Regions from separate parts of the Homo sapiens genome. Here regions 1, 3, 4, 5, 6 and 7 are each linked to region 2. The links come from fine-mapping of genetic effects on gene expression. A gene starts in region 2. Each other region holds a variant in brackets. All regions are shown on one strand. Distances are between the middles of the regions.

What was found.
Region 1: its variant is fine-mapped to the expression of KANK1 in whole blood (TOPMed, PIP above 0.99).
Region 3: its variant is fine-mapped to the expression of KANK1 in whole blood (TOPMed, PIP above 0.99).
Region 4: its variant is fine-mapped to the expression of KANK1 in whole blood (INTERVAL, PIP 0.99).
Region 5: its variant is fine-mapped to the expression of KANK1 in whole blood (INTERVAL, PIP above 0.99).
Region 6: its variant is fine-mapped to the expression of KANK1 in whole blood (TOPMed, PIP 0.99).
Region 7: its variant is fine-mapped to the expression of KANK1 in fibroblasts (GTEx, PIP 0.98).

The regions. Positions count from the first base shown.
Region 1 is chr9:451,074-455,073 of GRCh38, forward strand. DOCK8 (dedicator of cytokinesis 8) reads left to right here. Exons shown (of 48, transcript NM_203447.4): 46 at 938-1,044. LOC124902108 (a long non-coding RNA gene) reads right to left here. Exons shown (of 3, transcript XR_007061389.1): 3 at 3,231-3,533. Among named protein-coding and RNA genes, the nearest start is that of DOCK8-AS2, 17 kb to the right of the region's middle. The variant C/T (reference allele first, on the strand shown) is at 2,477.
Region 2 is chr9:501,994-506,512 of GRCh38, forward strand. KANK1 (KN motif and ankyrin repeat domains 1) reads left to right here and starts at 2,702. Exons shown (of 12, transcript NM_015158.5): 1 at 2,702-2,761. LOC105375947 (translation initiation factor IF-2-like) reads right to left here and starts at 3,560. Exons shown (of 4, transcript XM_047424276.1): 1 at 3,267-3,560; 2 at 2,946-3,176; 3 at 1,704-2,828. The coding sequence starts at 3,560. The coding sequence ends at 2,007. RefSeq lists a silencer at 2,338-2,827.
Region 3 is chr9:694,280-698,798 of GRCh38, forward strand. All of the region lies in intron 2 of KANK1 (KN motif and ankyrin repeat domains 1), which reads left to right. Among named protein-coding and RNA genes, the nearest start is that of KANK1-AS1, 11 kb to the left of the region's middle. The variant G/A (reference allele first, on the strand shown) is at 1,874.
Region 4 is chr9:710,387-714,905 of GRCh38, forward strand. It overlaps KANK1 (KN motif and ankyrin repeat domains 1), which reads left to right. Exons shown (of 12, transcript NM_015158.5): 3 at 418-3,078. It overlaps LOC107987042 (phosphatidylinositol 4,5-bisphosphate 5-phosphatase A-like), which reads right to left and starts at 256. Exons shown (of 1, transcript XM_017015393.3): 1 at 1-256. The variant C/T (reference allele first, on the strand shown) is at 2,213.
Region 5 is chr9:652,391-656,909 of GRCh38, forward strand. All of the region lies in intron 1 of KANK1 (KN motif and ankyrin repeat domains 1), which reads left to right. Among named protein-coding and RNA genes, the nearest start is that of KANK1-AS1, 31 kb to the right of the region's middle. The variant A/G (reference allele first, on the strand shown) is at 2,291.
Region 6 is chr9:565,052-569,570 of GRCh38, forward strand. All of the region lies in intron 1 of KANK1 (KN motif and ankyrin repeat domains 1), which reads left to right. Among named protein-coding and RNA genes, the nearest start is that of KANK1, 63 kb to the left of the region's middle. The variant T/C (reference allele first, on the strand shown) is at 2,333.
Region 7 is chr9:750,131-754,388 of GRCh38, forward strand. LOC124902109 (a long non-coding RNA gene) reads right to left here. Exons shown (of 4, transcript XR_007061394.1): 2 at 221-455. Among named protein-coding and RNA genes, the nearest start is that of KANK1-AS1, 67 kb to the left of the region's middle. The variant T/C (reference allele first, on the strand shown) is at 2,140.

The sequences.
Region 1 (4,000 bases), 51 kb before region 2:
AGGCCGAGGTGGGTGAATCACTTGAGGTCAGGAGTTTCAGACCAGCCTGGCCAACATGGTGAAACCCCATCTCTGCTAAAAATACAAAAATTAGCCAGTGTGGTGGCAGGCGCTTGTAGTCCCAGTACTTGGGAGGCTGAGGCAGGAGAATCCCTTGAACCCGGGAGGTGGAGGTTGTAGTGAGCTGAGATTATGCCACTGCGCTCCAGCCTGAGTGACAGAGTAAGACTCTGTCTCAAAAACAACAATAAAAAAGAAAATAAATTTGGGCTGTGTATGGTGCGCACGCCTGTAATCCCAGCAATTTGGGAGGCTGAGGTGGGTGGATCCCTTGAGGCCAGGAGTTCAAGACCAGCCTGGGCAATGTGGCAAAATCCCATCACTACAAAAAAATACAAAAATAGCCAGGTATAGTGGCACACACCTGTAGTCTCAGCTACTTGGGAGGCTGACATGGGAGGATCACTTGAGCCTGGGAAGTGGAGGCTGCAGTGAGCAGAGATCATGCCACTGCTCTCTAGCCTGGGTGATAGAGCGAGACCCTGTCTAAAAAACAAAAACAAAACACACACACACAGGGAAAATACATTTATACTTCTGAGTGTTCCTCTAAAACTTCAGATTCCTCCTAAGAAATCAAAATTTCCTGAGATGTCCAAGACCTTCCTTATTTTTTTTTGTTTATTTCAAACCAACTACAAAATTAAATGTTCAAACTAAGAAGTCACTCCAATATTTTCTCCCAAGCAATTTAATTTCCTTCATATATGTATGAATATATTCATATATATGTGTGTGTATATATATATACATATATATGCATATACATATACATATGCATATACATATATATGTATGTGTATATATATATGTGTGTGTGTGTATATATATATATATATATATATTTTTTTTTTTTTTTTTTTTTTTTTCCCACCAGGGACCACTGGAAGTAGCCCAAGTGTTTTTGGCTGAAATTCCTGCTGATCCAAAACTCTATCGACATCACAACAAGTTGAGGTTATGCTTTAAGGAATTCATCATGAGGTAAGAAGGAAAATGGCTGGGAATTTCAGTAGAGCAGTGGTTCTCAAAGTGCAATCTTAGACCAGCAGCTTCAGCATCACCTGAGAACTTGCTAGAAAGACAAAGTCTCAGGCACCCTCCAGACCTGCTGAATTGGAATCTCTGGAGGTGTGGCTCAGCAATGTGCAGTTTAACCCGCCCTCCAGGTGATCCTGATGCACACTGAAGTTTGAGGACCACTGCAGCAGAGCAACACTACTTGAACTACTAATGAGTAACTAACACGTCAACTATGAAACGCTTTTGTGGCTAGCATCCCGTGTGCCTCACAATCACTTGTTGTAAAACAAGTATCATCATCTTCCTCATTTTACAAAAGAGGAATCAGAGGTTCAGAGAGAGGAGATAATTTTACTTAAGGTCACACAGACAGTTGGCAGCAGAGATGAGCTCAAACCAGGTCTTCTGAATCCAAATAGTCCACATGTCCATCAATGTGCTGATATTCCACTGATGCACTAGAGTCCCAGAGGTTCTTTGCATTGGCAGTCATTGTAATGTTACAAATCTTATAATATCTTATTTTTAGAAACTTAAAAACATACACTGCCTCAAATTGAGAGAGGCAAGTTCTAAAACCAGGCTTTTCAAAGGTATTATCCTGTGACAGTTCCCCATGTCAGACAAGTCTCATCTCTGTTCCTTAATTCTGCAGTGGAGCTGGCTTCAAGAGCAGTCAGTTAGGAACTGGGTCTTTGGTCAAAGCCTTGTAATTTATTGCAATACAGACAGATATATTGGGTCTCCTATGGTCCTAAAAATATGAGTATGAAGGATGTGATGGCATTTCACCTATAAGAGAAAAGGACTTCAGAAAAATGTGTAGCAATATTTCTTTCTATTCAAAACCTTAGAGAAGAATATTAAGTATAAGAATATCTTCACTTGGCAGATGGGGATAAAGGAGACTAAAAGTTTGCTAAATTCAGTGAAAACTCATCAAAATGCTAGCATTTGTGAGGTTAGAGATATCTCCTCCTTCACAGGCTTTTGCGAGAGGTCCGCAATTTTGCTGCATATACAGGAGACACACTGTGCCCTGCAGTGAATCACAGCCGCTTGGTAATAGGATGTTTGTGTGGCTTTGCGTGTTTGTATTTGTGCATGTGTGTGAACATACTCACAGATTATCTTGATTAATGTTTTGATATTTGAATTGTTTCCTGTATTTGACAACAATTCTGACAGAAAAACTAGTTGTTGTTGTTGTTTTTTCAGTACATAATACGTATCTTTTAAAAGGCTAGAAAAATATTTGGGGAATTATTTTATTATTTTATTTTATTTTGAGACAAGGTCTCACTCTGTTGCCCAGGCTGGAGTACAGTGGCATAATCTCAGCTCACTGCAACCTCCACTTCCCAGGCTCAAGAGATTCTCCTCCCTGAGCCTC[C/T]CAAGTAGCTGGGACTACAGACGTGTGCCACCACATCTGGCTAATTTTTGTATTTTTGGTAGAAATGGGGTTTCACCATGTTGGCCAGGCTGATCTTGAACTCCTGACCTCAAATGATCCACCTGCCTTGGTCTCCCAAAGTGCTGGGATTACAGGCATATACCACCGTGCCCGGCCCTATTTTTTATTTTTTGTGGAGACAGGGTCTCACTATGCCGTCTAGGCTGGTCTTGAATTCCTGGGCTCAGAGATTGGGGGCTTAAAAAAATTTTTTTTCATATATTTTTATTTAAAATTCATTATGGTTGAATGCTTCCAAAGTTGACTATGCCCCAGGACCTCTAAAAGGACCTATGAAATGTTTGAAGAGCACTCACTATATTCCAGGCATGATATTAGTTATGGGACTACAGAGATCTGGCTTGTTCCTCTGTTCTTAATGACAGGACATAGCCCTGCATGGCTGAATAATAGAATGCAGCATATGCACAGAACTTTAAGAATGACTAACTACAGGACTATAAAGATCAGAAAAGAGAAATCAGTTTCAGGCTGGAGCATTTGTGGGAGGCGTTATGGAAAAACACCACTTAAATCTTGTCTTGACTATATACGTGGAAGAAAGGCGCTAGTGGGGAAGAGGGAGCCAGGACAGTGGCCCTGCCTGATCCAAGGTATCACTTTCAGCTGCTTTAGTTACCCATGGTTTGAAAGTATTACTTACAATATGATATTCAGAGAGAGAGAGAGAGACCACATTCACATAACTTTTATTTCAGTATATTGCTGTAATTGTTGTTAATCTCTTACTCTATCTAATTTGTAAATTAAGCTTTATCATAGGTATGTATGTATAGGAAAAAAACATAATATATGTAGGGTTCGGTACCATCCGCAGTTTCAGGCATCCCCTGGGGGTCTTGGAACCTATCCCCGAGAATGAGGAGGACTGAGTACCACTGAGTGGACCAGCAGGACCACGAGACTCTGTCAGGAATGCCTGTGATGCACCGGGTTCCTCTAAGTCCAGCTGGAGCAGCGTGTTCTCATGAGCATGCTAGGACAAGGAGGAAAGATTGGAAATATGATAATATCAGTAAATGAGGCTCTGAATACAATTTAAATGTTTAAGAAAACTTGTCAGGAGAGTGATTTTCATTTACTTCAGTTTGCCTCAATTTTTTCTACTAGTTATAAATCTTGCAATCCAGTATCTCACGGGTATGATCCTTTCCATGACACCACCTAGGTAAAATGTACTTACAAAATCCCTACTAAACATGCGTTTCTCATTAGCTCCCAGCCCCAGGAAAAGTTACTCCAAAAAGAACCAGTGCCCAGTAAAACTAGTCCCAGGCAAGAGATACAAGAGGAAATGGACTTTCCTAGGGGTCGCTCCTTTAACAAAGTCATTAGAGTTTCAATAATGAGGCTATCATTCTCCCCAGATGGCCTACAGAAATGTTGGATTTTCAAAATCAAATTCACCATTTTAAAGTTGTTCTCCTACCCTTTTAATGGTGA
Region 2 (4,519 bases):
CATCAGTAAATGGTATAATGGGTAGGGGGAGGAAGAAAGTACTGAAACATACTACAGCATGGATGAGCCTTGCAACTATTATGTTAAGTGAAAGAAGCTAGTAGCATGTTGTTATGTTCCTAGTTATATGCAACGTCCAGAATCAGCAAATCCATAGAGACAGAAAGTAAATTAGTGGTAGCCAGCGGCTGGGAGTAGGGAGGAATGGGGAGTGACTAATGGGTATGGGGTTTCTTACTGGGATGTCAATGTCTGGAATTAGTGGTGATGGTTGTGTGACTTTGGGAATATATTCAAAACCACTGAATTATACATTTTGGGAGTAAATTGTATGGCATGTGAATTGTATGTCAATAAAATAACTAAATTAAAAATGAAATTTCAAGTATAAATCCACTAAAAATTCAGAATCTGCCATACTTTTGATTGATTCGTTTTGCTTACTCTTGAGGGCCTATCAATGTTTACTGACTAAATGCAAAGAGGGAGAAATAAAGGAGAGGTGAAGGCTGGGAATTCTGGGGATGGAGAGCACTTTTTTTTTTTTTTTCTTAGAGTCGTGCTCTGTCGCCCAGGCCAAAGTGCAGTGGCATGATCTCGGCTCACTGCAACCTCAGCTTCCCGGGTTCAAGGATTCTCCTGCCTCAGCCTCCCGAGTAGCTGGGATTACAGGTGCACGTCACCACGCCCAGCGAATTTTTTTGTATTTTTTAGTAGACATGGGGTTTCACCATGTTGGCCAGGCCGGTGTTGAACTCCTGGCCTCAAGTGATCCACCCATCTCGGCCTCACAAAGTGCTGGGATTATAGGTGTGAGCCAGTGCACCCGGTCGAGGGCACTATTTATTTATTTATTTTTGAGACAGGGTCACACTCTGTAGCCTGGACTAGAATGCAGTGGCTCAATCTCTGCTCACTGCCGCCTCGACCTCCAGGGCTCAGGCGATCCTCCTACCTTAGCCTCCAGAGTAGCTGGGACTACAGGCGCGCGCCATCGCGCCCAGCTGATTTTTTTTTTTTTTTTTTTTTTTTTTTGGTGAAAACAGAATTTCACTGTATTGCCCAGAACTCCTGGGGTCAACTGATCTACCTGTCTCGGCCTCCCAAAGTGTGAGGATTATAGGCCTGAGCCACTGCGCCTGGCCGACGAGCACTTTTAAAATGCAGGAGTCTTCCTGCCTCTGATATCTCATCCCTTATCACCATGCAAACAATTCTCCTTTTCATAGAAGAGTAGACATTTGGGGCGGGGTGGTGGTGGTGGGGGATTTTAGAAAATATCTACTGCATCCAAATGCCCTACTCTACAGACGAAAAAGCAAGGCCCAGGAGGAGGAAAGAGTTTGCTTACTGCCACCCAGTGAGCTGGCAAAGGCGCTGAGATTCAAAATGAGCTTTCCTGCCTTCACATATCTTCCGGCTGCCCTTTGCCTATTCCCTAAACAGTCAGGAGCCATCAAGTTCAGGAATTTGCAGGTGTGCTTCGCTGTGAACTGTGGAAAAGCAGCGTCTTCTCCCCAGAGGCAAGCATGTCGCCTTGTGAAGTTTGATGGCTCTTCACTTGCACACTCACAAAAAAGACTGAGCGTGTGTAACGCCCTGCTGGATGTGTGCGGTGCTAGAGAGCTTGGGGGTGAGGGGAGGACTCTCTCCCTTAAGAAAATCAGTTGACTGCAGAGCTAACATTGTTTTTTGAGTAATACCTGGTTTTTATAAAGTCGTCCCTTCAGTTCCCAAGCTCCTCTTCTGTTTGTTCAAGCCACCTTCAATTTGAAAAAGACTGAAGTCACAGCTTCTCAATCCCTACTAATTTCTCATGGACCTACTGGATTGCTCCAAATCGAGTATTTGGGACTGAACTAGGAAGCCAGTTCAATCCTGAGCCCCCGAGGCAGGCGTTGGGTCTTCTGTGGAGTCCCCAGAGACCTGCAACCTTCTGAACACGCATCCTCCCCTTTCCGCCGAGGACTCTGTCCTGCAGCCGAGCCAGGGCGAATGCACGGAGGTCACAAGGGAGGTGCCCTTGGAGGCGGGAGGTTTCTGGCCGCCGGGGCGACCGTGCTGACGAGGCACCTGCAGGAAACAGAGCTCTGCACGCTCCGGTCCCCCTCACCCGGGGAGGGAGAGGAGGTACAGAGGCGCTGGGGGAGGACGTCGAGCAGGCCAGCCTCGTTGCCAGAACCCCCGCCCCAGCCGGAGATGGGAGCACCGCACCGTCTCACGGGGGCTGGATTTCTTCTCCCCTTGCGGGTGTGTGTGCGAGGATGGACGTGGTAAATACGGGTTGGCAGAAGGAGCGAACCGCGGTGGAGGAAGTTCTTCTGCTTAGTTCTCGCCGCGGCGAGGCCCGCGGGCCAGGCGCGGCGACGAAGGTGCACGAAGGTGCCCCGCGGGCCTGGTGGAGTTGCAGCGGCGCGCAGGCGCACTGAGGGCCGCCCGCGGCCGGCTCCGCGGTACAAAGAGCGCCCCCGCGGGGAGCCGGGCGTCCTCTGGGCGGAGGGAGCAGCCGGGGCTTCGCCGGCCCGCGCCGTTCTTCTCACGCGCCGCTCCGGGGCGCAGCCACAGCTGTCGCCCACCGCGGGTGAGAGGCTTGCTGGTCCGCCCCGGCTTCCCCGCCCCGGCGGCGGCCGTGCGGTTCGGGCTTTAATTCTGGCGCTTGCCAGCCGGGGCCGACTCCGCCCCCTGCGCCCCGCCCTTCCCCGAGCTCCGGGTCCGCGGCGGAGCGAGCGAGCGGCCGGCAGGTTGGGAGGAGCGGCCGAAGGTGAGTGACGCGGCGGGGCCGTGCCGCGCCCCGTGCCGCGGCGAGGTTGTCCCGGAGCGCGAGGCCCCTACCCCTGCCTCGGGCTGGCCCCGCGCGGAGCCGACTTGGCGCGCGCCGGGGTTGCGCGGCGGCCGTGGCGGTGGCGGAGGGCAGCCCCCGCGGGCTCCCGCTCGTGCGGGTGAACCCGGCGGCCTCGGGGCGGTCCTGGGGGGGGGTCCGAGAGGTGGCGTCGGCCCCGCGGCCGTCGGAGTTTGGCGCGCTCTGCAGCGGCGGCGCTCGGCCGGTCTGGAGGAGGGAGAGGCGCGCCGGGCACGGAGCAGCGAGAAAGTTCGGGCCGGGCCGGCCGGCGGGAGGGTGCGGGCGCCTGGCTACCCCGGCCCGGCGCTCTGTCCCTCGGATGCCTCTGGGCCCTTCCCTAGCCCGGGGCGGAACGGGGGACCCTCTCTGAAGCGGCTCTCCGTGGAGTTGGATGTTGCCCTTCGCGGGAGGGAGTGGCGGTCAAGACCCCTTTATCCTCGGCCCCAGAGGGGCAGGTGGCCTCGGGTCGCCCTCCGCCAACTCCGAGGTGGCTTCGGCCGGGGCTGGAGGGCGGGGAGGCGGGGGAGGGGCGTGGGCGCTGCGGCCTCTGGGGCGGCCCAACCCGGCGCGGGCAGCGTGGGTTTCCGAGGTCCCGCGGTTCCAGGTCGAGGGAAGGTGTAGGGGCCCTGAAGCGGGCTGGTCCCCGAATGTTGCGTTTTCTGTGCCGCTTTGGGCAACACGCAGTGGCGCTCGCGGCAGCCACGGCTCCTTGACCGTTCATCTCCTTCACCCGGGTCCCGTGGAACTTTCAGAGGCAACTGTTCTTGGTGGCTCTTGCGGGTCAGCACGAGCCGTGCTGCACGAGCGTGACCTAGTGAAGGCCTTGGGCGAGTTGGCGTTAACAATTTATGGCGTCCGCCAGCGCTCGCTTTCCGCACGTGGCCTCTGCGGAGGGTCAGCCCATCTTATTAAATAGTGGATTCTATTAGACCCTGATACCCGAGGCTAATAAGGAAGCTTAATCATCCAGATGTGTAATCGTGCAGTTCCTTTCCTCACCGTCATTGCCCCCCACCTCTGGAGCTGAATGGAAATGAGGGTCTGTTTGCTTATATTGAATTCCTGAGTTTATTCAAGTTCATTTTTAGGTGGCGTTAACAGCTAAGTAGCTGTTCATCTGCCAGTTTCTCCTTTCATCCAACTTTCTCTACTAAAATGTTGAGCACGTTTTATTTAAAAAAAATTGAAGTGTAATAAACATATAAATTTACTCTTCTAAGGTCAAAATTCAGTGGTTTTTAATATATCCGTAAAGTTATGAAATCATCACTACCATCTGATTCCATTTCGTTGCCCCCAAAAAGAACCCCTATACCGATTAGCAGTCATTCTTCCATCTCCCAGCCCTTCTCCCTCATTTTAAGGCAGCTACTTAGGAAGTTTTTCTAAGATAGAGACTGAGTGAGAAAACTGAGAGGTGATTAACTTTGATCCTTTTTCTGTTACTAGGTTTGGGGAAAGGTGCTGCTGAAGCAATGGAAGAAAAATTAAGTATTGGCTGTCCTATGGGGAGGTTAAAATGAATAAGGATGGAAGAGAAGCTGCCAGTAGAGGAATAATTGCCTCCTGTAGAGACCCACAAGTTGGGAATACATTTTATCCCCTTAGGGCACAGGGATGCTTTCTGGGCTCTAGACTTGCCTAGTCCATAAATCACTCTAGTCGAGGTTCTGCCTCAGC
Region 3 (4,519 bases), 190 kb after region 2:
CCCTAAGTTAGCCAGTGCTCCTTTTCTGCTTTTCACAGAATTACTCTCTGAACTGGCACATTTCTTTTTTACGCTTAGAACAGCATGTTACTTTTGAAGAAAGTTTGGAAAATAACAGTCCAAGCTCATTCTCTTCTGTGCATGCATGATTGATTTGGGCTGTATTTCAGCAACAACTTTTAAAATGAGACAGTGGACATTAGAGAGCAGCATAGTTGGGGTTGCACTTAGGAGCCCATGGCATTTTGGCTGTTTTGAGACAGATTTGGGGTAAAGAGTTGCTGCATCTTGTAGTTGGCACTGAACACTGGAGAAGAGGGCCACTGTATAAACCGCAAGGCCCCTGTTACCATCACATGCCTCCCTAGCACAATGTGCCCTTTATTAAGACAGGCCGTTCCACTACTGAGAATAGTAACCCTTTCCGCTGTCTTCCCCTCACTCTTACGTGCAGCCTGGCTTCTGGCCTCTTAACCCATGCCCAGAGTAGAATTGGCAATACCCAGGAGGGACACTGCACTGGGGATTGTTAGGTCATGCCAGTTAGGATGCAGCTGGAAAGGTGCTGCTGAGTGGGACGTGCAGAGGGGAAGACTGCAGGCTCTGTCTGCCTGAGCTCATCTGGTCTGACACCTGCCGTGATTCATTTTTCTTCATGCCATGTTAAGAAATTTTGTATCAAGTCTAGTCGACAGTTACTCATAGCCTGGAAGCAACTTTGGAAATCAGAGTTCCACTGACCCCCCTCATTTTAAGGGTATGAATCACATCACTGCATTGTATGATTCCAGGGCTCTCTTGCCCATGGCTCGTGCATGAACTAGGAAGTGATCATAGTTCCTGTTCTTGTTTTATGAAAACAATAGTATACCTTCCCCCAACCTAGGCAGGCCATTCAGGACGACTACCCTGGAGGTGCTCTGGGTGGCTTAAAGCACCGTCTTTGCACAGTGTGTTAGAGAGCACTGTGCCCTGAGGACTTCGGGAGAGCTGCAGAATGAGTGTTCAGAATAATCGGCACTCACCTTTGCCCTCATGTTGTGAGATGGAGATATTTTAACCTGGCCATAATATGCTTTAAAAGTTGGGGGGTGTTTGTCTGCTTTTGCTTTTATTTCCTTCCTGTGCTGGACTGGGACTCCCCCTTATCTAACTGGTACATACCACTCTGCCCAAGCAGTGCGTGTGCACACACACATCCCCTACAGCTCCCTGCTGGCATCTCCTTCATACACTCTTAAGAAGAAGAAACCAATGTAGAACTCAAGATTTTAGCAGACTTACTTGGTCTTGAACAAGTATCACAAATACCTTAAACCCTGACTTCGTGGGGGGGGGGGCAAGGTATAGAGGAGGAAGGGTTCTGGATCCTCTCTGGGGGGCCAGGGTTGTGTTCTTCTCCAGACAACAGAGGGTGATCCAGTACCACTAGTAGTGACAATAGAACCCACCCATTGTTCTAAGTGACAACACACTGATGCAGGTACTATTATTTTCTCAAACAATTGGAATATAGTCTAATTTGCCGACAGCTGCAAAGCAGCAGAGCCAGGATTCAAACCCAGGCAGTCTGGCCCCAGAGTGCCTGCTTCAAATCACTACATCTCTTCCTCTGTTATACTTATTCATCAGTAGATGCCTAGATGTGGGGCTTTACACTTCAGCAGATACTAAGAGGGCCATGTACCAAGCGCCAAGTACTGAGGAATACAAACATAAATACTGCTTGAGGGCCAGGCGCGGTGGCTCATGCCTGTAATCCCAGCACTTTGGGAAGCCCGGCTCACGAGGCCAGGAGATCGAGACCATCCTGGCTAACATGGTGAAACGCCGTCTCTACTAAAAATACAAAAAATTAGCCGGGCGTGGTGGC[G/A]GGCGCCTGTAGTCCCAGCTACTCGGGAGGCTGAGGCAGGAGAATGGCGTGAACCCGGGAGGCGGAGTTTGCAGGGAGCCGAGATCACGCCACTGCACTCCAGCCTGGGTGACAGAGCGAGACTCCGTCTCAAAAAAAAAAAAAAAACTGCTTGACTTCTGCCTCCCCTAGACACTTAGAGTCTGGTAGAGAAACACAGGCATGTGCTTGCTAACTGTAACACAGTTCCGCGTATATAGGCAAAGTGACTTAGGAAACAAGAGGGAAGAAGGGGACCAGTTATTCCCAGGACAGAGCAGTTGAGGGTAAGTAGGGCTTTACAAAAATGAGGTATCTGGGTTGGGCCCTTTAGGACAATGCAGCTGATTTTGACAGATGGGAGAGTGTGGGGAAGGGTGTGCTGGGTAGAGGGGATAGAATGAGCAAAGATAGATAAGCTTGAAAATTTCTCAGTACGTTGAGGTTTGGGGTGGGGAGGAACCTGGGAGGTGCTGGATTGGGGCTAAATTGTTGACATTTCGTGCCACAGAAAAGAGCTTTTAGGCTTTCTTCTTTAAAGTGGAGCTCCTGGCACATCACTTTGCAAGGATAGTGATTGAGAAGTTGTAGACGTTTCCAGGAATACCTGAAACAAATGTAAAATTTCTCAAATAATATGTAATACAGGAAAGCAAAGCCATCTGCCCCTGAAAACAGGCTGCATATTTGCAGTATGAGTAACAGCAGAGTCTGGGCTGTGCTCCCTAGTGGCAGGCTGACTGCACTCGTGCACCCTAAGGACATTGATGCACAGATGAAGAAAGGAAAGACAGAAATAAAATTTATTTTTAAATAATTTTAATCGTACATAAAAAGAGCTCTCATGTCTTCCTCACCCAGACTCAGATTTCCCAGTGGTTAACATTTTACCGTATTTGTTCCATCTGTGTGTGTGTGTGTGTGTGTGTGTGTGTCTGTGTGTAGAAATGCAGTTGTCATGTCTTTTTGGCCTCCTTCCATCTGAAAAGTTCTCGTTTTTACCTTTTTTTCATGGCCATGATGGTTTTAAAAAGAGAGGCCTGACATTCTGTAGAATGTGTTTCAGGCAGGGTCCAGGCCATGCCTTCTTGGCAGGACAGTGCAAAAGTGATGCTCTGCTCTTCCCCATGCAGATACATGATGTCAACTTTGATCACCTGGTCGAGGTGGTTATTTGTCAGCTTTCTCATCATAGAGTCACCATTTTTTTTTATGATTGACATTTCATGCCACAGAAAAGAGCTTTTAGGCTTTATTCTTTAAAATGGAGCTCCTGGCACATGACTTTGCAAGGATAGTAATTGAGAAGTTGTAGACGTTTCCAGGAATATTTTCTGGTGAGATATTCTGAGACGACATCAGTATCTTAGTCTTTAGTAGGAAATCTCTACCCACTAGCCTTAGCTAGTGATTCCTACCTGAATCCGCCACTGTTCTAATAATTGGTCCATGGTGATTTTCTGTTGACATAATTCCTTGTATATATTAGTTGGTATTCCTACATATTTATTATAGCATGATGGACTCACAAGTAGATACCTATTCTCTGGATTGTAACTTGTTACTATCATTAATCATATTATTTTCATGCTCAAATTATCCTAGATTTGGCTAGTGGGGGTTCAAAAGAGTTTGAATCAAATATACCCTTGACACTGGCATTAAATAGCCAATCTGATGTGTGCTGACGATTGAGACTAATAACTGGTAGGCGGAGGGTGTTATCTGAGTTCTAGATATGTATTTATCTCAGACAGTATGGGTTACCTGCAACAAGATCTGTGGTAGGCAGGCCAACAGTAACACTCGGGACCCTAGAGGCAAGCCAACCTGAAATTCAGCTTGTCAGAGACCATCTGGTGGGTGGAAGTTTTGCGTTTTCAGAGTATATTGTTTAAGTTCCCCAGGCCTATCGTCTACCTTTAGCTTTCCCTGTTGGCCAATTCAGGCCCTGGTCAGATGCGGGTGGATAGGTACACAAAGCTGGAAACAGCGTGCTGCCCGCCTTTCTCTCCTGCCTCCAGAGACACTTGTTGGCTGTCAGGGTCGGTGTTGTCTTAGCCTCACAGGCATTTTCAGTCCTTGCTCTTCCCATCCTAGAGTTTCAAACACAGAGCGAGTCTGTGTTCTGCATCTCAACATGCTAAATCAGAACCTGGATTCCCTAAAATGTTGTCTCCTGTTTCTTCCTGCCCTCACTCATGCCATATCCGTCCTTCCCAGGTTAGATTTCTCATACTTCAGTGACCTTCAGAAAAGGAATCCCATCACTTTTCTCTGCGGTGAGTCATCCATTGGTTTAAAGAAAAAATTTTCTTTTTTAATAGCAGAATGAGGTAACAGAGCCCTAGAAGACAAGCCCAGAGACCGGATCCTGGTCTCCAGCTCAGCCCAGAGTAGCTGGAATTTGTCAGACCTTCTCAGTTTCCTCCGAAGTATTAGGGGCAGACAGAGTCAAGGCTACAGGCTGGCTAGCCCAGATGCAGACAGTGTCAAAGTTCTCATTGTGGAATACCACCAGAACTTATCTTACTATTACCACTTACCATCTAATTGGGTAGGTAAAATTCATATGGTGCAAAGGAGTTTGTTATACCTAGACAAAAATTCATGGGGACTTGAATAATC
Region 4 (4,519 bases), 210 kb after region 2:
TTGGGTGGATCACCTAAGGTCAGGAGTTCGAGACCAGCCTGGCCAACATGGTGAAACCCTGTCTCTACTAAAAGTGTAAAAATTAGCCAGGCGTGGTGGTGCACCCCTGTAATCCCAGCAACTCAGGAGGCTGAGGTAGGAGAATTGCTTGATCCCAGGAGACGGAGGCTGCAGTGAACCGAGATCATGCCATTGCAGCTCCAGCCTGGGTGACAGAATGACCTGTCTCAAAAAAAAAAAAAACAAAAAAAAACAAAAAAAACTTGCTTACCCAGCTGTTGTAGATCCAGGTTCAAAACATAGGTGTGTCAACTCTTAAAATCATACCAGCTTGCTGTACTGCAACAAACACAAATATTAGTTTTTACCATTAGGTGTATTGCATGTCATTATAATATTCTTTTCTCCCTCTTCTAGGAAAAGCAGGTGATATTCTCAGTGGAGACCAGGACAAGGAACAGAAAGACCCTTACTTTGTGGAGACCCCCTATGGTTATCAACTAGACTTAGATTTCCTCAAATATGTGGATGACATACAGAAGGGAAATACCATCAAAAGACTGAACATCCAGAAGAGGCGGAAGCCGTCCGTGCCATGCCCAGAACCCAGGACCACATCTGGTCAGCAAGGTATATGGACTTCCACTGAATCCCTCTCATCCTCCAACAGTGATGACAACAAGCAGTGCCCCAACTTCCTCATAGCCAGAAGTCAAGTTACATCAACTCCAATCTCAAAGCCACCTCCCCCTCTGGAGACCTCACTCCCTTTTCTTACCATCCCAGAAAATCGACAGCTGCCACCTCCCTCACCACAACTCCCAAAGCATAACCTTCATGTCACCAAGACACTGATGGAGACCCGGAGAAGACTGGAACAGGAGAGAGCCACCATGCAGATGACACCGGGTGAGTTCAGAAGGCCCAGGCTGGCCAGTTTTGGAGGCATGGGCACCACAAGCTCCCTCCCTTCTTTTGTGGGTTCTGGAAACCACAATCCTGCCAAGCACCAGCTTCAGAATGGATACCAAGGTAATGGGGATTATGGTAGCTATGCCCCAGCTGCTCCCACCACTTCCTCCATGGGGAGCTCCATCCGCCACAGCCCCCTGAGCTCAGGGATCTCCACCCCAGTGACCAACGTGAGCCCCATGCACCTGCAGCACATCCGCGAGCAGATGGCCATTGCTCTGAAACGCCTGAAGGAGCTGGAGGAGCAGGTGCGAACCATCCCTGTGCTCCAGGTAAAGATCTCTGTCTTGCAAGAAGAGAAAAGGCAGTTGGTCTCACAGCTGAAAAACCAAAGGGCTGCATCCCAGATCAATGTCTGTGGTGTGAGGAAGCGGTCCTATAGTGCGGGGAACGCCTCCCAGCTGGAACAGCTCTCCCGGGCCCGAAGAAGTGGCGGGGAATTATACATTGACTATGAGGAGGAAGAAATGGAGACCGTAGAACAGAGCACGCAGAGGATAAAGGAGTTCCGGCAACTTACAGCAGACATGCAAGCCCTGGAGCAGAAGATCCAGGACAGCAGCTGTGAGGCCTCCTCAGAGCTCAGGGAGAATGGAGAGTGCCGGTCTGTGGCTGTGGGTGCCGAGGAGAACATGAACGACATCGTCGTGTACCACAGAGGCTCCAGGTCCTGTAAGGATGCAGCTGTAGGGACACTTGTTGAGATGAGAAATTGTGGGGTCAGCGTGACAGAGGCCATGCTTGGAGTGATGACTGAAGCTGACAAAGAAATTGAGCTGCAACAGCAGACCATAGAATCCTTGAAGGAAAAGATCTATCGCCTAGAAGTACAGCTTAGAGAAACCACCCATGACCGGGAGATGACTAAACTGAAACAAGAGCTGCAGGCTGCTGGATCGAGGAAAAAGGTTGACAAAGCCACGATGGCCCAGCCGCTTGTTTTCAGTAAGGTGGTGGAGGCAGTGGTGCAGACCAGAGACCAAATGGTCGGCAGTCACATGGACCTGGTGGACACGTGTGTTGGGACCTCCGTGGAAACAAACAGTGTAGGCATCTCCTGCCAGCCTGAATGTAAGAATAAAGTCGTAGGGCCTGAGCTGCCTATGAATTGGTGGATTGTTAAGGAGAGGGTGGAAATGCATGACCGATGTGCTGGGAGGTCTGTGGAAATGTGTGACAAGAGTGTGAGTGTGGAAGTCAGCGTCTGCGAAACAGGCAGCAACACAGAGGAGTCTGTGAA[C/T]GACCTCACACTCCTCAAGACAAACTTGAATCTCAAAGAAGTGCGGTCTATCGGTTGTGGAGATTGTTCTGTTGACGTGACCGTCTGCTCTCCAAAGGAGTGCGCCTCCCGGGGCGTGAACACTGAGGCTGTTAGCCAGGTGGAAGCTGCCGTCATGGCAGTGCCTCGTACTGCAGACCAGGACACTAGCACAGATTTGGAACAGGTGCACCAGTTCACCAACACCGAGACGGCCACCCTCATAGAGTCCTGCACCAACACTTGTCTAAGCACTTTGGACAAGCAGACCAGCACCCAGACTGTGGAGACGCGGACAGTAGCTGTAGGAGAAGGCCGTGTCAAGGACATCAACTCCTCCACCAAGACGCGGTCCATTGGTGTTGGAACGTTGCTTTCTGGCCATTCTGGGTTTGACAGGCCATCAGCTGTGAAGACCAAAGAGTCAGGTGTGGGGCAGATAAATATTAACGACAACTATCTGGTTGGTCTCAAAATGAGGACTATAGCTTGTGGGCCACCACAGTTGACTGTGGGGCTGACAGCCAGCAGAAGGAGCGTGGGGGTTGGGGATGACCCTGTAGGGGAATCTCTGGAGAACCCCCAGCCTCAAGCTCCACTTGGAATGATGACTGGCCTGGATCACTACATTGAGCGTATCCAGAAGCTGCTGGCAGAACAGCAGACACTGCTGGCTGAGAACTACAGTGAACTGGCAGAAGCTTTCGGGGAACCTCACTCACAGATGGGCTCCCTCAACTCTCAGCTCATCAGCACCCTGTCGTCTATCAACTCTGTCATGAAATCTGCAAGCACTGAAGAGCTGAGGAACCCTGACTTCCAGAAAACCAGTCTGGGTAAAATCACAGGTAGGTGGTACCCTGAGGACCTGGGAATGAGGAAGGATGGGGGAAAATGTCTTTCCAGAAGCTAAGGATTATTTTTTAACTGCTGGAACCATTTTTGGAGGAGAAATGGAGAAAGTTTTAGAGTGGTAATCTGTAGAATGAAAACTAAGAATCAAAATCCATAAGCACCTCTGCTGATGCTTATTATCTGGTAGCCTCACTGGCCTCTGGCTGAGGACTAACGCTGGAAGAAAAGTAAACTGGTGTTGGCTGGCCTAGAGGTTGTCTTCTGGGGCTGCTAGTTTGGTAAGATGCTTTATTCTTTGTCTTTCAGTTATTTACTTGCTCATTATTTATAGAACTGCCTTTAAAAAATCCTACCCTGTTTGTACCCACTATTACCAGTATATTAGCAATTGAAATACTGGCATAAAATGTTTTCAGTTAAAACGTTTATGAGAGGAGAGACTCCATTAATTCATTCTTTAATTCAGCAAATAATTATTGAATTTGAGCCAGGTGCAATGGTACACATCCGTAGTCCCAGCTACTCTAGAGGCTGAGGCGGGAGGATTGCTAGAGCCCAGAAATTTGAGACCAGCCTGGGCAACATAGTAAGACCTCCATTTCTAAAAAAATATGAAGTAAAAATCATTATTACTTGGATTCCTACTCTGTCTCAAGCTATAGGCTGTGAAGATAGTGTGAACAAAACAGAACAGAGCCCCTGTCCCTGCGGTGCTTACATTCTAGGTGGGGTGCAGGATATAGACAGTAGACCTATAACATGTCAGGAGGCGATAAATACTGTGAAGAAATTAACTCCGGTTATGGGAACAGCGAGTGGTAGTGGTCAGGGTGAGGGCTGTTTGAGATGAGGTGGTCAAACTTGGAGAGAAGGGAGTCTTTTCCCACTCATTTTTTTTTTTTTTTTTTGAGACAGAGTCGCTCTGTCACCCAGGCTGGAGGGTGGTGGTGCCATCTCGGCTCACTGCAACCTCTGCCTCTCAGGTACAAGCGATTCTTGTGTCTCAACCTCCTGAGTAGCTGGGACTACAGGTGCCCACCACTATGCCCAGCCACTTTTGTATTTTAGTAGAGATAGGGTTTCACCACATTGGTCAGGCTGATCTTGAACTCCTGACCTCAGGTGATCTACCCACCTCGGCCTCCCAAAGTGCTGGGATTACAGACATGAGCCACCACACCTGGCCCGATAGGCGCTTACATTTTTGTCTGTCTTATTCTTTCTCGTATTCATTGGGATTCCTGCTCACTCTTCCTTCTTGAAATTGAAGCTAATAATCAGAAAGCCACCCTGGATGATTTTATGGCTTACAGTAATTCCCTGTGAGCCTTACCAACCTGATTTTGCTTGTGACCATGTGCACTGCCTCTCACAGTGTATAACATCATCCTCAGCTTAGGACCACACTGCCTGGCTTCCGTTTCTGGCTCTCCA
Region 5 (4,519 bases), 150 kb after region 2:
TCTGCACCTGTAATCCCAGCTACTCAGGAGGCTGAGGCAAGAGAATCACTTGAATCTGGTAGGCAGAGTTTGCAGTGAGCCGAGATCGTGCCATTGCACTCCAGCCTGGGCGACAAGAGCGAAACTGTGTCTCAAAAGTAAAATAAAGTGTTTGCAGTGTGAAGAAACAATCTAAATATTCAACAATAAAGGAAGGTCAAATGAGACAAAGATGAAAGGGGAATACTATGCAGCCATAAAAGAGAGATGTGGTTGTTATCTTAGGAAGATGACTATAATATGAAGTTAAAAGTTACAAAGGAACATTTGGGAAGAATGTATAGGTACATACATGCTTATAAAACCACAAGAAAGAACTGGGAAGCAATACACCAAAGCGTTGATAGTAGTAGAATTACGGCTGATTTTTTACTTTCTCTGTCATGCATTTCTTTATTGTTGAATATTTAGTACTAGTACATGGAGAGGGAATAGAAAACTTAATTTGGAAGGGATGGGGAAAAAGTAGCCACCCTGGGAGCTGAGTTAGAGGAGAACACAGAGCCCAGGTGTTTCAGCATCTGTTCCGGCGTTGGCGGTGGGAATTCTCTGAATAGTCCTCACTGTGCCAGAGAAGCTTTCTGCGCACAGCTGGGTCCTGTGAGGCAAGACCTGTGTCCTGCTGACTCATACACAGCATCCCATATGGCCTTAACTTTATTTAGCAACGTCAGCTCAAGGAAGCCTTGTGTTCCCTTTGGGCCCAGGATTTAGAAGAGCATAATCATAGAATGTCTGTCAGGCCTGGAAGTGTCATTAGGGCTGTCCTAGTCTGGACATGAAGAGTCTGAGGCCCAGAGCATTTAAGTAACGTTCCCAGAGTCCCAGAGGTAGTTCGAGGCCAACTGGAAATGAAAATGCGGTTCCCAGGCTCGTGGTCTCTCTAGTGCTACTACTTTGCTTGTCTCCAAGCTCTGCTCTGGTGGATGAGTCTCCAGTTCTCACAAGCAGTTTTTAAGGCCAGAGCAAAAGGTTTCCAGGTAAGAGAATTTTTTTTGTCATATAAGAGAAGATTAAATTAATAGGACTTTTGTTCAGATCTGCATTCAGTGAGATACATGGAAATTCAGAGGTTATTGACTTTCCTTGGGTCTGGCCTCTTTTGGATATTTAATAAAGGCTGCAAAACCTTTCCCTTGAACGATGCAAGTTTGCTGAAAACCACAAAACTTTGCATTTGATTTCGGAGGTTTCAAGAGCCCTGTAAAGCCTGTCCCTGGGTTCTGAATGTCCTTTGTCTTGTGCTCCCCTGTTTTCAAGCAGTTCTTTTGCATTTGGAGGTAACAGAACTGTGATCTGGTTTGGTTTTCATACCTTTGTTGCAGATATGTTTTCTTCAAATAAAAAAGAAGGAGAGGATAGCAACTAGGAAGATGAACAAGCCTCATCACATTGGATACTTAGTGTTGTCTTTGTGTTTACAGTTGCTGTTAGATTGTCATTCCAATAAAAGTAAAATTATGTAATACTTTTTAAAGCTCCCATCACACTAGCACAACTGCTTTCATTTTTTGCAGAGTGTGCCACCCTGTTCCTTTCCACATGGATACTTCCTGGTTACAGCCAAAGACTGTTCATTATGCCCTTTCATGCTTCCACATGAAAGACACAAACTGAGGCTGAAATTGAGTGGCTTCTTACCAGAAATTAGGTATTTGAATAAGAGCAGATCGTTTTTACTTAAAAGATGTAAGTTTTGAAAATGACCACATGCAGCAGTTAACACACTGATGACTGGACTTACCTGAAGAGTCTCTGATTCAGTAGCCCGTTGTGGGGCCCAAGCATTTCTAATAAGTCCTCAGGTGATGCTGACATCACTGGTCCACGGCCAGACTTTGAGAAACAGTGGCCCAGAGAATAACAGTCTTAGAAGGCAGGGTGTTTTCCAAATTTTGCTGAAGACAAGAATCAGTTGAGAATGTTTGTTAGAAATGTAAATTTTAACACCATGTCAGACTCACTGAATCAAAATCTCTGGGAGAATCTTGGAATAGTATATTACCAGATCTGGAGGAACTACTATTCTCTTGCTATCAGGTAAGCCCCATAGAGTGTCACTTGTTTGCAAACCACTCACAGGACAATAGAATTTTTTTTTTCAAACACTAACTCAACCAGAAGGGACAATGTAATATATTTACCACTCAATCGTTTCTCATCCATTGTCTGCTTTGACCCTATGAGCCCATGAGCACCTAGCAGCATCCACATTTTTAAATGAATTTTAAGTCACCCTTCTAAGACATAA[A/G]TATTTTTGTTTCAGGTACCAATATATTGTTTGAAAGAGATACCAGAATACCTGCTTTCTGAGAATTTCCTCAAGTTTTACTGAGTTCCTTTTTAATAAGCATAGTCACAATATGCATTTGTGTGTGTGTGTGTGAGAGAGAGAGAGAGAGAGAGAGAGAGAGAGAGATAAAGGGAGGAAGGAAAAAGAAATGTGGTTTTCTGCCAAGTTCAAGTTCCCTAGTGATGGTGATGCTGCTGATCTCGGAACACGTTTTGAGAACCACTGGAATAGACCAATAACTCTCAAATGTAGCAGTTGGAATCTCCTGGAGGAGCTTTGAAATATACTTCTGCTCAGGTCTCACCCCCAGAGATTAGTTCAATTGGTCTTTGATGAGACCTAGACAGTAATTCTAATAATCATCCAGCCGGGCGTGGTAGCTCACGCCTGTAACCCCAGCACTCTAGGAGGCCAAGGCGAGTGGATCACCTGCGGTCAGGAGCTCGGGACCAGCCTGGCTAACGTGGTGAAACCTCGTCTCTACTAAAAATACAAGAAATTAGTCGGGCATGATGGCACACGCTTGTAATCCCAGCTACTCGGGAGGCTGAGGCAGGAGAATCGCTTGAACCCGGGAGGCAGAGGTTGCGGTGAGTGGAGATCACTCCATTGCACTCCAGCCTGGGAAACAAGAGCAAAATTCTGTCTAAAAAAAAAAAAAAAAAAAAATCCAAGATTGTGAACCATTACTGTAGGTTGCTCCAGATAAAAGGTAATGGGTTAGGAAGCTTAAGACTTGATGAGGAAAAATAAAGGTTAAACCAGTGCTCCTTCCACTTCAGTGTGCATACAAATCACCTGGGGGTCTTGCTGGAATGCAGATTGATTCTGTAGGTCTAGGGTAGGGCCCAAAATGCTGCTTTTTTAAATCAAGTCAGGCAGATGCTGCTAAGATTGCCCAGGGGTCTACACTTTGAGTAGTGAGGTGGTTAGAAAGTGTTGACCTATGTAAGTGCTTATCAACACACAGTTTTTATATATTTTTACGTAGTATAGAACAAATAAAAGCAATGTCATTGAGATTTCAGATACCTTAGAAACAATAAATATTTTGCCATTAATGACTATTTCCCTTCCCTTGATGGCTAAAACGTTTTGTTTTTGCTTCTCCCTACCTGCTTACTCAGAGTTTCAATCAAATGTTTGTAAATTAATTTTGCTTTAGTATGACACATGTAGTAACAGGCCTTTCCCCTTTGTAACTGAGTCCCAGGATTCACGGAGTTTGAGGATCTTGCCTTCTGGCTTCCTCCTTGCCTCAGACCCTGCCCTTTAGGGGTTACTGCCCTAAGAGGCTGAAAGTTTAGTAATGCCCCAGAGCCTCGTTGCAGGAGCTAGTCACTTTTGGCACTTTCTTGCTGTCAGACCGCAGGCTCTGGGAGCCAGTCTTCTTGGGACATGGCTTCATCCTGTGTCTCTGGCTTGAGCCCAACCTTTCAGGCCTGGGTTAGGGGTGAAGCCTTTTATCTGGCAGGTCCCACAGTCTGGCGCCTTTCCCAGCGTGGTGGAGTTGAGACCTTGCTGTCAGAGCCTGTTCAGAAGGAGAGAGGGAGAGACAAGACCTTCGCGTGAGGAGGAAAGAGTTTAAGTCCCGTCTGTGGAATCTGTTTCCCCTGGCTTGTTGAATTTTCTCAGCTGAACATGGCAGAAGTGGTTGATATTTGAATTAGAGGCTATGAAAGTGTCCTTGGGAAATGGGTGGGGCTGAGCCAGTGGTCTTCCCTTTTGCCTCTACCTCATGCTGACCAGGGGACAAGGCTCTGTCTCCTGGGTGTGGCCTGTCATTGGTCAGTCTGTGACCATACTGCTATTCTCCAAGGCATTCCTCAACAGAATGGGATCAGGCTTTTTCAGTCATTTCCCATTTTTAAAGGACATCTCCATGGCAGATGCCCCTACTCCCTCCCGGTGCCTGAATATTTGCCTGTCTAGCGTGGGTAGGTGAACGTCAGCAGAACTCTTGAAGAATCACTAAAGGGATGTGCTTGTCCTAGCAGGAGAGCCTGTGACAATAAAAAAGCAGAGAATGTTCTGAGTCTCCTGTATTAAAAAGGGAAAAGCTTAAGTGAGGTTTATTTCCACTAAAGGATAGCAACATAAGGCAGCTTGACCTTTAGTGTGACTGGAGCACCGTAAATGCTACTTCTACTTTTTTCCTTTTTTTTTATTGTGGTGAAAAACACATAG
Region 6 (4,519 bases), 63 kb after region 2:
AGAAGAGAGACCAAAGTGTGACTTTAGAAACAGAAAAATCCCCTTTTCTTCCTTTGCAAATCCATACCTATATATTTTGAAGACCACTAGGCATGTCAGGTAAACTTTCAGCAATTTAAATTAATCAGAGAGCTGGAGAACATCTATTCCTGTTAAGATCTTTCCCACCCATTCAACTCCCTGACTAGTTACTGCTAAAGAGAAAAATGGTAGCAGCTTCATCTTTAAGACTTAAGCCATAGTTCTTGCAATGGGAAAGTCAACCCTAAAGAATGGTTTCATGTTTGCTCCCATTCTACCTTGTGCAGACAGTAGTTTAAGGATGTCTTCTGCAGAGCATAACTTGTGTAGTCACCCAAAAGGGTCTTCCAGTTCACTGAGACCATGGTATTGCAGTAAAGAAAGAGTTTAATTGACGAAGAGGTGGCTAGCCGCATGGGAGATGGAGTTATCACTCAAATTAATCTCCCTGAAGTTTTGGGGGTTGAGGTTTTTCAAGGATAGTTCGGTGGACAGGGGACTATAGAATGGATGTTGCTGATTGGCTGGGGATGCCATCATAGGAGTGTGGAAAACAGCCCTCATTTGCTGAGTCTGCCTCTGGGTTAGGGGCCATAGGACCAGTTGAGTCATGAGTCGCAGGTCCAGGTGGAGTCAGCCAGTCGTCAAAAATGCAGCAGTCTGAAAAGACATCTCAAAAGGCCAATCTTAGGTTCCGCAAGAGTGATGCTATTTACCACAGTAATTGGGGAAGTTACAAATCTTGTGACTTCCAGAACAATGGCTGGTTATCATTTATACCTACGCTTTTAACAAAACTTTTATTTTAGGTTCAGGGGTGCATGTGCAGGTTTGTTAATATGGGTAAACTCGTGTCATGGGGGTTTGTTGTACAGATTGTTTCATCACCCAGGTGTTAAGTTAATAATACATAGTTATTTTTCTTCACCCTCTGCTTCCTCCCCAACCTCCACCCTCCATTAGGCTGCAGTGTCTGTTGTTGTCCTCTATGTGCCCATGTGTTCTCATCATTTAGCTCCCATTTATAAGTGACAACGTGTAGTATTTGGTTTTCTGTTCCTGCGTTAGTTTGCTGTGGGTGATGGCTTCCAGCTATCCATGCAAAGGACATGATCTTATTCTTTTTTATGGCTGCATAGTATTTCATGGTGTATATGTTCCACATTTTCTTTATCCACTGTACCACTGATGGGCGTTTAGGTTGATTCCATGTCTTTGCTATTGTGAATAGTGCTGCAGTGAGCATATGTGTGCATGCATCTTTATGATAGAATGATTTATATTTCTTTTGGTGTACACCCAGTAATGGGATTTCTGGGTGGAATGGGAGTTATATTTTTAGAACTTTGAAGACTCATCACATTGTCTTCCACAGTGGTTGAACTAATTTATACTTCCACCAATACTGTGTAAATGTTCCTTTTTCTCTGCAACCTCGCCAGCACCTGTTATGTTTTGATTTCTTGATAATAGCCATTCTGACAGGTGCGAGATGGTATCTCCTTGTGGTTGTTATTTGCGTTTCTCTAATGATCGGTAATGTTGAGCTTTTTTTCCACATACTTGTTGGCCGCATGTGTGTCTTCTTTTGAAAGGTGTCTGTTCATGCCTTTGCCTACTTTTTAATGGAGTTGTTTTTTTCTTATAAATTTAAGTTCCGTGTAGGTGCTGGATATTAGACTTTTGTCAGATGGATAGTTTGCCAAAATTTTCTCCCATTCTGTAGGTTGTCTGTTTACTTTGTTGATAGTTTCTTTTGCTGTGCAGAAGCCTTTTAGTTTAATTAGATCCCATTTGTCAATTTTTGCTTTTGTTGGAATTCCTTTTGACATTCTCGTCACGAAATCTTTGCCCATTCCTATGTCCGGAATGGTATTGCTTAGGTTATCATCCAGGTTTTTGAGTATTACATTTAAGTTTTTAATCCTTCTTGAGTTGATTTTTGTATATGATGTAAGGAAGGGGTCCAGTTTCAATTTTCTGCACATGGCTAGCCAGTTATCACAGCACCATTTATTCAACAGGGAGTCCTTTCCCCATTGCTTGTTTTTGTCAGGTTTGTCAAAGATCAGATAGTTGTAGGTATGCGGCCTTATTTCTGGGTTCTCTCGTCTGTTCCCTTGGTCTGTGTGTCTGGTTTTGTACCAGTGCCATGCTGTTTTGGTTATTGTAGCCCAGTAGTGTAGTTTGAAGTTGGGTAGTGTAATGCCTCCAGCTTTGTTCTTTTTGCTTAGGATTGCCTTCTATGCCTACATCTTAGCAGAATTCAGGCCCTTCTCATAACCCTAACCTTGTGGTGTTTCATTAGCTT[T/C]ACAAAGTTGATTTAGTTTTGGAAAGTGCTATTCTCATTCTTGCTTTAAAGTTAAACTATAAACTAAATTTTCCCCGAAGTTAGCTTTGCCCATGCCCAGGAATGACGAAGGACAACTTGGAGGTTAGAAGCAAGGGTCAGATATCTCTTACTGTCACAGTTTTGCAAAAGCAGTTTCACTTCCCTCTTCTAAGTACCTTCTGCATTGATTGGAGCCAGCAAAGAGAACTTTTGCAGCATTTCTTAGTTTGAATGTGCCATATAAATGAAACATGTTTGGAAATGTGAAACCAAGTCATCCATGAGAATGTTTTCCTCTGAAAGGCAGCACTTCTTGATAAGTCCCTTCCTCATGGAACTTTGGTGCAGTGTTGGCCCATTTTAAAATTTATTGGTTACCCAGGGAGATGCCCGAGCTTATCAGAATTAGAGTCTCTCATTTGAGTACGTTCTTGCAGTATAGAAGTTTGCAGATGTTTTATAACTTTAAGAGGCCCAGTGGTATTGAATTTAGAGTTAATTTTTAAAACTGGCTCCAAAGTCACCAGCATGGACAAAACTTACAGTCTTCCAAAGAGAGAGTGCCAAAGTTCAACGCTTGGCATTGTTGGTTTTTTTTTTTCTTTGTGCCCATATCAGGTAGCTATGATTATCTTCATTTTACAGAGAAGAAAACAAAGCTCAAGAGTTAATTTGACTAAATTCACAGATGAGTGAAGTATGAGGTAGAGAGTGATCCTGTGTGAGAATAGTTTACATTTATCTTGATGTGGTTATAACCACTACCTTATCTATAATGCATGTTAAAAATCAACTTCTCAAGATTTTTTACACCAAAGGCAAAAATATTCAAATGTTGATATAGTCCCTTCCATTCATTTTTATATTTTTGTTTAAAATCTTCAACATCATACCCAGTTTTCAACCTAACTTTATAAAGTAAGCATTTCCTTAATCTTCATAAACATGTTTAAGATATGTATCATAATTTAACAAATTATTAAGTTTCTGAAATTTTTACAGTAGTGAGGCAGTGGATGTATTTATGTGTAAGTCTGTGGGGTTTTTTTCCTGTCTCTCCCATAGAGGCAGAGACTTGCTCTGTGACCCAGGCTGGAGTGCAGTGGCATGATCGTCACTCTGTTGCCCAGGTTGGAGTGCAGTGGTGCAGTCATGGCATGCTTTAACCTCAAACTCCTGGGCTCAAGCTATCATCCCGCCTCAGCCTGCTGAATAGCTAGGACTACAGGTGTGCATCACCATGCCTGCCTAATTTTCTAAAATTTTTTTGTAGAGACAAAATCTCAATATGTTGCCCAGGCTGATCTCGAACTCCTGGCCTCCCACCTTAACCTCCCAAAGCACTGGGATTACAGGTGTGAGCCACCATGCCTGGCCAAGGTTGATTTTTTAAAAACATTATTTCCTTAGTATGTGTATGATTAGAAGCAAAATTACAGGTCAGAAGTCACATTTTAAAAGATCATGACCACTTAAAAAACCCTTAATATGTTTTGCCAAATTTATATCTTTTAAAAATGGGATCGATTTCCACACTCATCGGGGTATATTTGAGTATGTAGCTCACTGTAGACAGAGCTCCTGGGGAGGGAGGAATGGCTCTGGTGCTCTTCTACCCACCTGTAGAGGTTCAGCTGGGGACCAGCTCCACTGTGGGGCATTGGGAGGCTGTTAGTGCAGAGGTATCTTCTCAGTATCTGCCTGACACACTACTGTATCCAGCTGCCTGACCCAGTCCTGCCCACCTGCCTTCCTTTCTTCCTGCCTCCCCTCTGTTTTATCAACTTTGTCTCAAAAAACATAGCTTCCTATCTCTATATGTTCGTCTCCTATTTATGGTCCCTCAGTATGTTATAGTGCTTGCTAAGGTTTGAATGTCCCATGTGAATCTCATGTTGAAACTTAACCCCCAATGTGGCAATATTGAGAGGTGGGGCCTTTAAGAGGTGGCTCTGCCCTCATGAATGGATTAATCCATTCATGGATTAATGGATTAATGGGTTATCAGGGGAGTAGGGCTGGTGGCTTTTAAGAAGAGGAAGGGACCTGAGCTAGCACACTCGGCCGCCTCACCATGTGATTCCCTGTGCTGCCTCCAGACTCTGTCAAGTCCCCACCAGCAAGAAGGCCCTCACCAGATGCAGCCCTAGACTTTGGACTTCTCAG
Region 7 (4,258 bases), 250 kb after region 2:
AAGGAGCTGGCATTTTAAGAATCCAGCTGCCCACTGCATCTCCATTAAGACCTTTGTTGATTAAATAGGTAAGAGGATGGAAAACATATCCCTCATTTTCATAAAATGGAAGCTGCATAACAAATATTCCTATTTCTAAAACCAAATGTCAATCTTGTATTTGAGCCAAAATAACTTTTACACTTGTTCCCCATTCCCCAACCCAGAAGGAACTAGTTACCCAGCCCTAGAAACCACCTGGAAGGCTAAGGCTGTACGACTGAGGGCGAGAGAAAATCCCTGAGCTGCAGACAGGCAGGTGCTGCTTTGCTGTCACTGGTGCAGGCAGCTCGATGCCTTGTTGAGGCTGGTTGTAGGAGAGCAAGTGCCAGCTGGGCAGGCCGCTTCTCATGTGTCGGGCAGCAAAGAGATTCTTGCTATGGTCCCATCTGCTCTTTTAGGAAGTACTGGATGTGCTTAAACAGGTAATAAGGAAAATATTTATTAGGTAAAATCCCTGAGAGTTCAGAGAGCTCACCCACCCCCAATCCTGCCTAAAATATGTCACCCCCACCCCCAGAAAAATCCAGTCTTCCAACAGGAAGCTTATTAGGATGAAATCTCATGCTTCGGTTTGTAACACCATCTGCCAGGACTGAGAAGTTCCGGTGCCTAGCTGAGAAATACTAGTTGAATGAATGAGTGTAAAAAAATAACTGATGGTGTTAGAAGTCAGGAGTGTTGCCATGAGGGAGCTGGAAGGAGCCCAAATGGGGCTGGTGGGCTCCTGGTAATGGTCAATTTCTTGCCTGGGGGGTAGTTGCACTGTTATGCTCACTTTGTGACCATTCATCAGGCTGTAGACACACGTGTGTGCTTTCCTGTATGTATATTAACTTCAATTTTTTTTAAAGTTTAAGAAAATGAAAAAGTTTGATCAAAAAAAACCTTGGGAAGGAAGGTGCAGATTTGAGAGTCAATATAATCAAAGAGATAGTGAAAGAAGGTAAAAACTGGAAACTCTTAGCCCTGCTATTTCTTGAATGTGACCACATAGTTTTGCATGATGGCCATTGTGGCCCACTCGTAACCTTGAATAGCAGTCACGAGGGCTGTTCTCAGATACTCCAGTTCTTTTTCTGGGCACAACAGGATCGGATGTACTACCCACACACTTTTGAAGTTACACTTGGCCATGTGACTTCTCCAATGAAACAGAAAAGGTTATGTGTCAGTTCCAGATGGAAGCCTCAAAAGCCAGTGCAGTTTACCGTATCTTGTACTCCCCTTGTCACAGTGATGATCACGGAAGCAAGTGTTGACACAGACATCCCATTAGTGTCGACCCTGAGTGACTACGTGGAATAGAGTTTCCTTGCCAAGCTGTGTTGCAGGTGTATTAGGAACAAGAAATAGTCCTTTATTATGCTAAGCCAGAGAAGCTAGGGAGTGACTTGCTGTCACAGCGTAACTTAGATTTTCTTTATCCATACAAAAACTGGTTCCTCGAAGTGAAGTGCTGCTGTGTAACCAAATGGCTTAGTTGATTGGCGGACAGCAACAAAACTGTCACTGGGGACTTAATCATAGAACAATGACAACTATTTGGATGACTATTTTCTTAATAATCCCCAGGGATGGTACATACCAGTACCATCCTAGTTGCAGAGAGAGAATGTAACCTATTATCTACAGTGGATGCCTTAGGGCACTAGGGACTACATATTTTTGTGAAAGGAAAGCCATTTCCTGTGTACAGTCTGCCTAGATTGTCTCTTAGAAACGTGTAGCTCTCAAACTTTGGTGTGCATCGGAATCCCCAGGAGGGTTTGTGAAAACACACTGCTGGGCCTCAACCTCGACTTTCCAATTCGGTAGGTCTGGAAAGAGGCTCAAGAATTGGCATTTCTAACAAGTTCCCAGGTGGTGCTGATGCTTCTGGTCCAGAAACCCCACTTTGAGAAATGCTGCTCTAGAGGAAGGGCTCTGATAAGGAGGATTCCTGTCCATCAGGGAGCTCTAAAGTGTCTGTTCTTTCATCTTTGTAGGCTTTCGTCTTTTGCAGTTTCCAGTGACTAAACCTTATGAGTTAACTTGTTCCCTGTGGAACTTTTGCTTCCCAGTATAAAAAACAAATTCTGCAAAGATACCATTGCCCAA[T/C]AGGAAGTCTTTCTACAGCTTGTACAATATATCAAGTGTTTATAAATCCTGTATTCATCCAGAATTTGGCCATAGAACTTGACTCACAGCAGTCTTAAAAAAAAAAAATGACTCATACATTTCCCTTAGAAAGTAATGTTTCTTTATGCTAATCCCATGAGTTTCTGTGTCAGCTCACTCCCTTATGAATGCACATTTTAAAAAATCATGGTTGGCCGGGTGCGGTGGCTCATGCCTGTAATCCCAGTACTTTGGGAGGCTGAGGTGGGTGGATCGCCTGAGGTCAGGAGTTCGAGACTAGCCTGGCCGACATAGTGAAATCCTGTCTCTAATAAAAATACAAAAATTAGCTGGGCATGGTGGTGGGCACCTGTAATCCCAGCTACTCAGGAGGCTGAGGCAGGAGAATCGCTTGAACCCGGGAGGCGGAGGTTACAATGAGCCGAGATAGTGCCGTTGCACTCCAGCCTGGACAACAAGAGCAAAACTTTGTCTCAAAAAATAATAAAAAAAATCATGGTCTCCTCTGGAAACCCAGGTGGCATGGAGGAGAGTGTGCTGCACTGCTGCCCTCTCAGCTGCTGCCTCTGCATTCCATCCTGGGTTCTGATTCTGCCATCAGGCAGAAGTGCACAGTGTTTTTCCTTTCCAGAGCAGAAAAACGGTCATCCTAGGTGTTCACACTGAGATGCAAGAGACTGAGTCATCTGTGTTGGAAAGCCACAGGGGTCCAATGAACCCAGGAACCAATTGAAGATCCTCTTGCCTAAGGACACATATGGTATGTCCACAGCGCTAAGTTCAGAGACCAAGTTGAGATGAGTTAGAAGAGGGAGAAGACATCAGTGTTTCACTGGGAAAGGAGGCAACTTGTTTATATCTTCTCTCATCTGTAAATTCACCTCCAAGAGACAAGACACTCAGAAAGTACACTTGCTGAGATTGATTAATGGAAGGCCTTGAATGACCAAAGGAACGTTAATGAAGTTCCCCATATGCTTCATTCAGTCATCATCAGAGATATATGACCACTACATAACCAAAGAGCCAGAAGCTTGGTGTCTGTCTTATAAACCTTGCTATAGATATTGGTCTGTAGAACATTTTTTTTTTTTTGAGGCGGAGTCTCACTCTGTTGCCCAAGCTGGAGTGCAGTGATGAGATCTTGGCTCACTGCAACCTCCACCTCCTGGGTTCAAGCGATTCTCGTGCCTCAGCCTCCCAAGCAGCTCGGATTACAGGCACACACCACCACGCCTGGCTAATTTTTATATTTTTAGGAGAGCCGGGGTTTCATTATGTTGGCCAGGCTGGTCTCAAACTCCTGATGTCAGGTGATCTGCCCACCTGAGCGTCCCAAAGTGCTAAGATTACAGGCATGAGTCACTGTGCCTGGCACATATTTAAAAAAGTAGAGCACAGTCATTTTACTTACCTGTGTGTGTCGGAGTTTAGGGACTCCAGCTGAGGACAAACATCCTACACTTGCCAGTGCACAACAGTCTTGGGTTCAGAAATTTGTTTTGCCAAATTCTTGTCACTGCTTCTAATCCTTTTTAAAATTGGGGGCCCAAACACTGTCATCACCCACCAGTAAGTCTTCTGAAGATTACCTCTCGGCCGGGTACGGTGGCTCACACCTATAACCCCAGCACTTTGGGAGGCCGAGGCGGGTGGATCACCTGAGGTCAGGAGTTGGAGACCAGCCTGGCCAGCGTGGTGAAACCCTGTCTCTACCAAAAATACAAAAATTAGGCGGTCGTGGTGGCTTGCACCTGTAATCCCAGCTACTCAGCTACTTGGGAGGCTGAGGCAGAAGAATCCCTTGAACCCAGGAGGCAGAGGTTGCGGTGAGCTGAGATCACACCACTGCACTTCCAGGCTGGGCGATAAGAGTGAGACTCTGTCTCAAAAACAATCAATTAATTAAAGATTACCTTTCAATGATCGGTACCTACATTTACCTCTGCATGGAAAGGAGTTTCACCCAGGTGCCAACATGATGAACATTAACTGCTATTAGCAATCCACCCATCCGGGTAGACAGGCTGTCAGCCAGAGTCTACAGAAACGTAGGCAGTCACTCTTCCCTTTGCTTCCCCCTCCTGTTCATTTGATG